Homo sapiens: one gene and its partner. The protein of the gene in region 1 purifies or fractionates together with the protein of each later gene. This does not show direct contact. Each region holds a gene or a part of one and is shown in the gene's direction. Other genes may lie near its edges.

Region 1 (5,118 bases):
ATTTCCAGATGTAGCAGCCGCATCTGGTTCCGTTTCACCCCACACGGGTACACCGCAGCCGCATTATTAACTTCCCTCTTCCTCCCCTCCCCCTCCCCCAAATTAAAACTCAGATTCTTCAGCCTGTCTTGACCACCTCCCTCCTTAACATTTCTGGAGACTTGGAGATGCGGCGTTGAGATTCGGGGGAGAAAAGAAAGTTCCCTTGGATCCCGAGTTATTTAAGATCTCACCAAGTTATTCGCCGCCGCTGGTGGGTGGCGGCGGTCCGGGTGCTTTCTGGATTGCGCAGTAAAGAGGCATCTTGGGAGATGGGGCCAAGGTTTTAGGGGGTGCCACTCGCGAACGGTTCATCCGCTAGACTAGGGGGGCTCTTTGGCTGTGCGTCTGGCCAGAACTGGCCTTGACGATGGAAGTTTCTGGAACCAAAGCGTTGCTTTCTCTCCCTTGTGTTATAGCTGGAGCTGCGGGAGCGCCTGCCCTGCCCGGAGCCCGCGGTCCCCTCTCGGCTGCCCCGCGGTGGCGTCACGCGCCCCTCCCGGAGCAAGCCCGGTGCGCAGGGCCGGGGGCGTGGGCGGCTGCTGCCAGAGGCGCTCTCTGTGTGTTTTTAAGGACTGATTTGGGCCGCATCCCCCGGAAACTAAAGTGGGGTGTTTTACCGTTTAAATAACGGCTACAGGTTTGAAAGCGGGGTTGGATTTTCGAGTTGTGTTTGGTAATAGTCTTTGAGGCAGGAAAGCGCCTTGTGGTCCAAAGTTGCCGGGAGGGTGGGGAGAGTCGGTGTCTTACCCGCTTCTTTCCAGCCTCTTTCAAATTGAAAACACTTCTCTGGTTTCCTTCTTTGGGCGGTAGTTTTGGAGGCTGTAATGAAATCGCACTTTCTCTAGACGTGGTAATTAAGGTGACTGTTTCCTCCGCAGATGTGCCCTACCCTTTGCACCTCCGGACCAGCGCTTTTTTTGGAATACTATCTAGCCTTGAGACTGTTTAGCAGAAAGTGGCCATTTTCCTCCCTTGGCCCGGGCTCCCGGTTTCCTCCCTGAGGCTTGTTTAAAAGCGAAGTAGCAGGGCCCCGTGGGACGCGCCTTGGTCTGGGTAATCACCCCCACGCCCGGGTCATCCACCTTCCTCTCGGTGACCGAGGTTCAGCAGCCTCTGCTATTGCCGGCCGTCTTTGCCGATGGCCTGCCTCCCTAATGACTTGTTTACATATCCTACCCCCAGTGGGTTAGGAGAAGCTCCGGGGCTGCCCCGACCCTCCGAGTGCAGGGTGTTTGGGGACCGGGAGGCTGCTGGGGCCTGACTCCAGCTGGGAGGGTTATGAACTGCATCAGTGACGAGCTGCTTGAAATATCTGTTGCATTTACTCTTAGTCATAGCTGAGTGTCAGCTTTTTAATGAGGTTCATCCAGATTGAGAGCCACTTGGACTGCGTACTTCACTGCCTGCTTTTCCAAACATGCCTGCAGAAATGCTCATTTTCGAGGTATTTTTCCCAATGGGAATTCAGGCCAGAGTGGGCACCACTTGAACAATCTTAGGGTGCTTCTTTTCCTTGGCCTCTGGCCATGGAGGGTGTTAGACAGTTCCATTAGGTGGCCCTTTGATAGCAAGGGAAGCAAAGGCTCAGGAAGAAATGGAGAAGCGTCCCCCACTCCCTAGGGGCAGAGGATTAGATACATCGGTGCATCCCTCAGGCTGGGCTAGCTTTATTCCTGGTGGACTCCAGAGGGCAAGAAAATTGAATTGAACACTGGGTAGGCAGATTCAAGCCTTAGAGACCAAGGAAAATCCATGGGTTTTGCTTTTAGTGGTGTGCTCTTTGTTTTCAGTATTGACCTGAAACAAGACTCCTAAAATGAGAGATTTGCTGGTATGAACTTGGGGGTTTAGCAGCCGGCTTCTACAAAGGCTTTTTTCTTGCCTTCGTTTCTAAAGTGTCTTTCGTCAAAATGGCTGTTAGTTATAGAACATCCTAGCAAAGTTTGAGCCTGTTGCTGCTGGAGGAAAAGGAGTTAGAATTGATTCAAATGTCTTATTCTGAAAGGGCCTCACATCACTTGATAGTTTAATTTCCTCCTGGGAAATTTGTGTCTTACATTTGTCTTCCCCAGAGCTTTGTAAAAGGCCTGAACGCACCAGGGACTAGTGGGAGCCCAGATGCAGAGCTTTAGAGAAGATTCTGGTGTTTCCAGAGAGGATGAAATGTCAGACTTGGGCTAGGATATTTGTTTTTCCTCCTAAGGTTGCATCTACTTTAAACAGAAATTCTCTCCTCGCCACCATTTATCTCTCCCCTGCAATGAAAGAAACCATGTTTAGGGCCCTCTCCCCCATTTAATAGCCCTCACATGGATGAACTATCCCAAGAATTTGGTGGGGTTCCACTCATAGTACATCCTGTCTTCAAGAGCAAGGTTTTCTAGATTATGTGCAGCAGTTCGTGTTTCACTTGTTGCTTTTTTTTTTTTTTTTTTTTTTTGAGATAGTCTCGCTCTGTCGCCCAGGCTGGAGTGCTGTGGCGCTATCTCAGGTCACTGCAACCTCCGCCTTCCGGTTGAAGCGATTCTCCTGCCCCAGCCTCCCTAGTAGCTGGGATTGCAAGCATGCGCCACCATGTCCGGCTAATTTTTTGTGTTTTTAATAGAGATGGTGTTTCACCATGTTGGCCAGGCTGGGCTTGAACTCCTGACCTCAAGCAATCCGCTGGCCTCGGCCTCCCAAAATGCTGGGATTACAGGTGTGAGCCATTGTGCCTGACCACTTATTGCTAATTTTTTATATGTCTCTTACTTCCAAGGACATTTAGACACTTTTTTTTTTTAAAGAGACTCAAAAAATTAGCATTTCCATTGGACCAACTAAAATTTAGCAAGCTGAGCTGAGTAACTTTCTCCATATGTTTATTAAGTACTTGCCCCCTGCCCTCTCAACATGTGAGTAGAGAATGGTCACTTTGGGGAAGAAATAAGTCTTATTCTCATCTGAAGGGATTAATGTTTTGGTGTTACTTCCTCAATTCTGAAGAACCAAGTTGTCCAGAAATTTTCTCAGGGTTCTTTGGACTAGAGTTTGGCTGGTTAACAAGGGGTACTACCTAATTGCTTTTCTCTGATATTCTCAGCCTCTTTTTCTGGAGGAGTATCTCTGTCAGTTTCTTTTCATCAGCCCTTTTTTTTCCTTCATTCACTTACTCATTCATCCAGTTAACAAACATGTTGGCATCTCCTGTGTACATGCTAGGTGCCGAGGGTGTTAGCAAAGGTTAGGGAGGCACAGACCCTGTTCTGAAGGAGCCTGCAGTTTCGTGGGGAGAGAAGAGAATGAAGAACATAAATAACAATCATATAATATGACCTAAGTGCTATGTGAGAGGGGCTAGTAATGTGGTTTGCAAATTTGGAGGAATGAAATTCTCCAGCTAGAAGGCCCAAGAAAGTCTTATGGAAGAAACAGCTTCTTAAGGTGGGGTTCAGAGAAAAGGGAAGGGCTGGCCTGTTGCAGAACAAGGAATGGCATGAAGAAAGTCTTGCACAGAGGCATGGATGTTGCTTCGAGCTGTGGCGCCCTATAGAAATAGAACATGAGCAGCTGGTCACAGTGGCTCATGCCTGTAATCCCAGCACTTTGGGAGGCCAAGGCAGGCGGATTGCTTGAGCCCATGAGATGGAGATGAGCCTGGACAACATGGTGAGACCCTGTGTCTACCAAAAAATACACAAATTAGATGAGTATGCTCGTGCTTACTGGTAGTCCCGGCTATTCAGGAGGCTGAGGTGGGAGGATCACTTGAGCCTAGGAGGCAGAGGCTGCAATAAGCTGTGATTGCACCACTGCATTCCAGCCTGGGGGACAGAGGAAGACCCTGTTTAAAAAAAAAAAAAAAAAAAAAGCCAGGCACAGTGGCTCATGCCTGTAATCCCAGCCCTTTGGGAGGCCAAGGCAGGTGGATCACCTGAGGTCAGGAGTTCAAGACCAGCCTGGCCAACATGGTGAAACCCTATTTCTACTAAAAATAAAAAAATTAGCCGGGCTTGGTGGCTCATGTCTGTAATCCCAGCTACTTGGGAGGCAGGAGAATCGTTTGAACCCGGGAGGCGGTGGTTGAGCCAAGATTGCGCCACTGCAACTCCAGCCTGAGTGACAGAGCAAGACTCCATCTCAAAGAAAAAAAGAAAGGAAGAAAGAAATATAACATTATAACATGAGTTATGTATATGTTCAGATTTTCTAGAAGCCACATTGGAAATTAAGTTAAAAGAAAGAAATAGGTAAAAAAAATTTTTTTTTTTGAGACGGAGTCTCACTTTGTTGCCAGGCTGGAGTGCAGTGGCGCAATCTCGGCTCACTGCAACCTCTGCCTCCCGGGTTCAAGCAATTCTCCTGCCTCAGCCTCCTGAGTAGCTGGGACTACAGGCGCGCGCCACTGCACGCAGCTAATTTTTGTACTTTTAGTAGAGACGGGGTTTCACCATGTTGGCCAGGATGGTGTCGACCTCTTGACCTCGTGATTTGCCCACCTCAGCCTCCCAAAGTGCTGGGATTACAGGCGTGAGCCACCGCGCCTGGCCAATATTTGTTTTTTAATTAACTTGTTTGTTTAGATTTTATTTAATGTAACTATATTTCCAAAATATTATCATTTGAACATGTAATCAATATAGAAATTATTGATGAGATACTTTACATTTTTTTCATAACAAGTTTTTAAGATGCGGTGTATACTTTTTACTTATAGCATATCCGTTAGCACCAGCCACATTTCAAGTGTGCAGTGGCCACTGTGTGGGCCACAGGTCTAGAATATAAGACATGAAGATGGAGAGTGAGAAATGCCTTTGGAAAGGTTGGAAGTTCCTGTCCTTCTGCTGCCAATTACCAAATCTCCTGAGAGTGCTATTAAGGAGTGACTCAAAGCACTACACAAAGAGAATTATAAATATCTTAATATTATATCTGAAATCCAAATGCATAATTCTTTACATTTGGTTGGTACTTTAGAGAGGAGAGAATGGGCACAGTCACCCACACCACCCATTTGAGCCTCATAATCACCTGTGATGTGGCTTCCTCTAGGTGGGAAACCGAGGCTTAGAACGGTTAAGTGACTATCCCAGG
Region 2 (5,118 bases), on another chromosome or scaffold:
GAAGGAAAGAGGGAAAAACATTTATTGAAATAATTCAGTATTACATTTATCTACAACTGTACAGTGTGTGTATATAAGGAAGTGAAATTGTTACCTTTTTAAAATTAAGAGGGGGCCGGGCACGATGGCTTACACCTGTAACCCCAGCACTTTGGGAGGCTGAGGCAGGCCAAGATTGCGCCACTGCACTTCAGCCTGGGAGATAGCGAGACTCCCTCTCAAAAAAAAAAAAAAAAACCATTGGCCAAGTCAGCAAAGGCCCTATATTGTATAGTTTCATTATATAAAATCTCTGCAGTAGGCAAATCCATAGAGACAGATAATAGATTAGGAGTTGCCAGGGGCTGGAGGATTGTGAGAAAATGGGGAGTAACTGCTCATAAACATGGAGGTTTTTTTTGTTATTGAAATGTTTTAAAATGCATTGTGGTGATGGTTGCACAATTATGTGACATACCAAAAACTCTTGAATTATATACTTTATTATTATTATTTTGAGATGGAGTCTTGCTTTGTCGCGTAGACTGGAGTGCAGTGGCGGGATCTTGGCTCACTGCAACCTCCACCTCCCAGGTTCAAGCGATTCTCCTGCCTCAGGCTCCCGAGTAGCTGGGATTACAGGCATGCACCACCACACATGGCTAATTTTTGTGTTTTTTTTAGTAGAGATGAGGTTTTACCATGTTGGCCGGGCTGGTCTTGAACTCCTGACCTCAGGTGATCTGCCTGCCTTGGCCTCCCAAAGTGCTGGGATTTCAGGCGTGAACCACCTCAGCTAGTCGGGAGGCTGAAGTGGGAGAATTGCTTGAGCCTGAGAGGCAGAGGTTTCAGTGAGCCGAGATCATGCCACTGCACTCCAGCCTGGGCAACAAGAGCGAAACTCTGTCTCAAAAAAAAAAAAAAAATTATATTCAATGAATATAACTGAGTGAGTAAAAGAATGAGCCAAAGACCTGGAAGAGATCTAAGGGGTCCATGATTCCAGATTTCAGGCGGGGCCACATTCAACTATCATTTCTTCCAAATTTTTGCAGTGGAATACAAGTTTGAAACCTGGTTATCTCCTTAATTCTCCATGTGCTGTGAGGAGATTTGGCATAAATTGAACAATTGGACTTGAGTATTTCCATCTAATATTAAACTACCTTAAGTACTTTGGCACTGCAGAAATGTAAAGCATCCCTTTTATTTGTCATTTCTAGGGGAGGTAACTCCAGGACTATCTCAGGTGGAATATGCACTTCGCAGACACAAACTAATGTCTCTGATCCAGAAGGAAGCTCAAGGGCAGAGTGGGACAGACCAGACAGTGGTTGTGCTCTCCAACCCTACATACTACATGAGCAACGATATTCCCTATACTTTCCACCAAGACAACAATTTCCTGTACCTATGTGGATTCCAAGAGCCTGATAGCATTCTTGTCCTTCAGAGCCTCCCTGGCAAACAATTACCATCACACAAAGCCATACTTTTTGTGCCTCGGCGAGATCCCAGTCGAGAACTTTGGGATGGTCCGCGATCTGGCACTGATGGAGCAATAGCTCTAACTGGAGTAGACGAAGCCTATACGCTAGAAGAATTTCAACATCTTCTACCAAAAATGAAAGGTAACAAATGGGAGCAGAAGTCACATTACAAACCAGATTGGGATTAAAACCTTTCTTGCCTGTTTAGACAAGTCCTTAATTTTGTTATCGTAGCACCACCATGAAAAGACCATGAGCACCATGAAAGAAATGTAAAGTCTTTTTCAGAAGATTGAGCTTCTTTAAAGATTTCATTTATGCCTGGTGCATTGGCTCACGCCCGTAATCCCAGCACTTTGGGAGGCCGAGGCAGACAGGTTCCTTGTGGCCAGGAGTTCAAGACCAACCTGGCCAACATGGCGAAACCCCGTCTCTACTAAAAATAGAAAAATTAGCCAGGCATGGTCGCAGGCGCCTGTAATCCCAGCTACTCAGGTGGCTCAGGCAGGAGAATCACTTGAGCCCGGGAGGTGGAGGTTGCAGTGATCCGAGATCATGCCACTGCATTCCAGCCTAGGCAACAAAGCAAGACTGTCTTAAAAAAAAAAAAAGATTCATTTATTCATTTGCAGGAGGTTACAGTGAGCCAGTGAGCTAAGATCCCGCCACTGCACTCCAGCCTAGGCGACAGAGCAAGACTCCATCTCAAAAAAAATAATAAAATGAAAGTATATAATTTAAGAGTTTTTGGTATAGTCATAGAATTGTGCAACCATCACCACAATGAATTTTAGAACATTTCAATTAAAAAAAAACTCCATGTTCACTGGATTATTCATTAATGGAGACTGTTACCTATCCTAGTTTGAAATCTCACAGAGAATTTTCTTTTAAAGCAAAGGATAAGCCAGACACAGTGGTGTACGTCTGTAGTCCAGCTACTGGAGAGGCTGAGGTAGAAGGATCGCTTGAGGCCAGGAGTTCAGGTCCAGACTGCACAACGTAGTGAGACCCCATCTCCAAAAAATAAATAAATTAAGGACAGGATGGGCATGGACCACTCTTCAAGATTACTGACCAGCTTCTTGATATTTGACAACTACTTCTTATCTTAGTGCTCTTGCCAGCTCTTCAAAAGGAGGTACTGTTCTCCAAGAACGATCCATGCATCACAGCATCAGAATCACCTGGTAATGCATATTAAAATTAAAAATGCATAATATGTAATAGAAATTAAAATCTCAGGCCTCCATCCCCTATCTACTGAATCAGAATCTGCATTTTAACAGATCTTTTGTGGTTCATATACAGTTGAGTTCTTTTTTTGTTTTTTTTTAGGCAGGGTCTCACTCTGTCACCCAGGTTGGGATGTAGGTATAGTGGCACACTCATGGCTCACTGCAACCTCGAACCCCAAAGCTCAAGCAGTCTTCCTGCCTCAGCCTCCAGAATACTGGGACTACCTGGGCACACCACTATGTCTGGCTAATTTTTTTTTATTTTTTTGTAGAGATGGAGTTTCACTTTGTTGCCTAGGCTGGTTTTGAACTCCTGGCCTCAAGTGAGCCTCCCACCTCAGCCTCCTGAAGTGCTGGGATTACAGGTGTGAGGCACCGTGCCTGGCCATAGTTGAGTTCTTGTCCCTCAAAGAAATTACTTTCTCTACAGTTATTCTGGTGAAATTTTAATCAATCCGAATGTTTTGAGATTTTTCTTCTGGGAATTTTTTCAGAACCTACACCACATTATAAACTATCTTTAGTAATTCTTAAAAAACTTTAGCTCTGGGAAGTATTTTATTTTTTGAAGTATCTTATTTGGAAAATAAGATAGATGCTCAAGTTTAAAAATACTGATTTTAGGTCAAGATAATGTATAATTATAAAGTTTTTGTTTGATTTTTCTTACATGGGTTACAAATCATATCTGAAGTTAGCTTCTAAAAGAGAATTCCAAAAATGTTTTTCACAATCATAAAATATATTAGACTGTTTCCTGTAAAGCCTCTTTTGGAAGAAAATACTCATTTGAATATGTAAGTTCTAATACATTTGATTAAATTCTTTTTATTTATAGAAATGTTTTCCATTTTATAGATAATTAGCCTGTTCAATTCATTGAACTTTCTTATGTCTTCAAAATCCACATAAATGTGGGGCATAGAATCATTTTCTTTCTAGCTTTTTTCTTACATTAGTTGCTACTTGTCATGTTCTACTGTCTAAGTTTTATTAATTCAGTATAGTTACAATCTCATGTAAAATAAATTTCTCAAAAGTACTTCTCGGTCACCATTCCTTTTTTTTTTTTTTTGAAACAGAATTTCGCTCTTGCCCAGGCTGGAGTGCAATGGCACCATCTCGGCTCACTGCAACTCCTGCCTCCCAGGTTCAAGTAATTCTCCTGCCTCAGCCTCCCGTGTAGCTGGGGTTACAGGCACGCGCCACCATGCCCGGGGAATTTTTCTGTTTTTTTTTAGTAGAGACAAGGTTTTACCATGTTAGTCAGGCTGGTCTCGAACTCCTGACCTCAGGTGATCCACCCCCCTCAGCCTCCCAGGGTGCTGGGATTACAGGCGTGAGCCACCGTGCCTGGCTAAAATCATATTTATTGAAAGGTTTAAAAACCTTTAAAAAAGTGAGCTATGATTTCATACACTTTGAACGTGTAGTAGAGATTGTTTTACTTTTTAAAAATTACAACAATTGGCCGGGTGCAGTGGCTCACGCCTGTAATCCCAGCACTTCGGGAGGCCAAGGGAGGTGGATTGCCTGAGATCAGGAGTTCGAGACCAGTCTGGACAACATGGTGAAACCCCGTCTCTACTAAAAATACGAAAAAATTAGCTGGACGTGGTGGCATGCGCCTGTAATCCCAGCTACTTGGGAGGTTGAGGCAGGGGAATTGCTTGAACCAGGGAGGTGGAGGTTGCAGTGAGCCGAGATCGCGCCACTGCACTCCAGCCTGGGTGACAGAGCAAGACTACGTCTCAAAAAAAAAAAAAATTACACGACAATTAAATTTCCATCTATCGTAAGTAGGAAGGTGTTTCCCATGTAGTATATATTTAGAACCATTTTTATTTTAAAAATGAAAATATGTAGGACATAGAATCACATAGGACATAGAATCATAGAATCAGTGCATATCCAATCAAAGTTTTCTGGATTTTTTCCCCTCTACTTTCCCCAAAGTACTTTTTAGTCATATAAAATATTCAGACCTTCTCACTTGGATTGTTAGGAATACTGTTTGTAGCCTACTGTTAGAAAAAAAGAACAAATGTAGATCTGATATTAAGTGCAAATCATTTTTATAATGAGCCTTTATATCGTATATCTTAGGCAAATACAGACCATTTCCTTAGGTCTCTAAAGTTGAAAGCTGAACTGTGATTGTTTACAAAGAGAATGTATAGCAGATGCAAAGGGAGAAGTGAGGAAATATCAACTGTAGTTTTTCCATAGCAATGAATAATTGCTCCAGAATGGGAGGAGAACCCTTTCCTCTAGTACTGAGATCATTATGTGAAAGGATGGGACACTTTACCCATAAAGTCATGATCTGAGTATGTTTTTCTGTCCTTCTGTGTGCAATTATTCAACAAGTGCCTCTAGCTCAGTAAGTGGTGGTGAAGAACAGTTGTTCT

Evidence for each region. The genes of interacting proteins can lie anywhere in the genome.
Region 2: the proteins of FGFR1 (region 1) and XPNPEP3 purify together in Homo sapiens (affinity purification with mass spectrometry; 2 studies listed by BioGRID and IntAct, with this or other methods). This does not show direct contact.

The regions. Positions count from the first base shown.
Region 1 is NC_000008.11:38,461,677-38,466,794, reverse strand, and holds part of FGFR1 (fibroblast growth factor receptor 1 isoform 1 precursor), read left to right. Parts: intron 1-5,118. UniProt on the Homo sapiens protein: Tyrosine-protein kinase that acts as a cell-surface receptor for fibroblast growth factors and plays an essential role in the regulation of embryonic development, cell proliferation, differentiation and migration.
Region 2 is NC_000022.11:40,880,568-40,885,685, forward strand, and holds part of XPNPEP3 (xaa-Pro aminopeptidase 3), read left to right. Parts: intron 1-1,202; coding exon 1,203-1,610; intron 1,611-5,118. UniProt on the Homo sapiens protein: Catalyzes the removal of a penultimate prolyl residue from the N-termini of peptides, such as Leu-Pro-Ala. Also shows low activity towards peptides with Ala or Ser at the P1 position.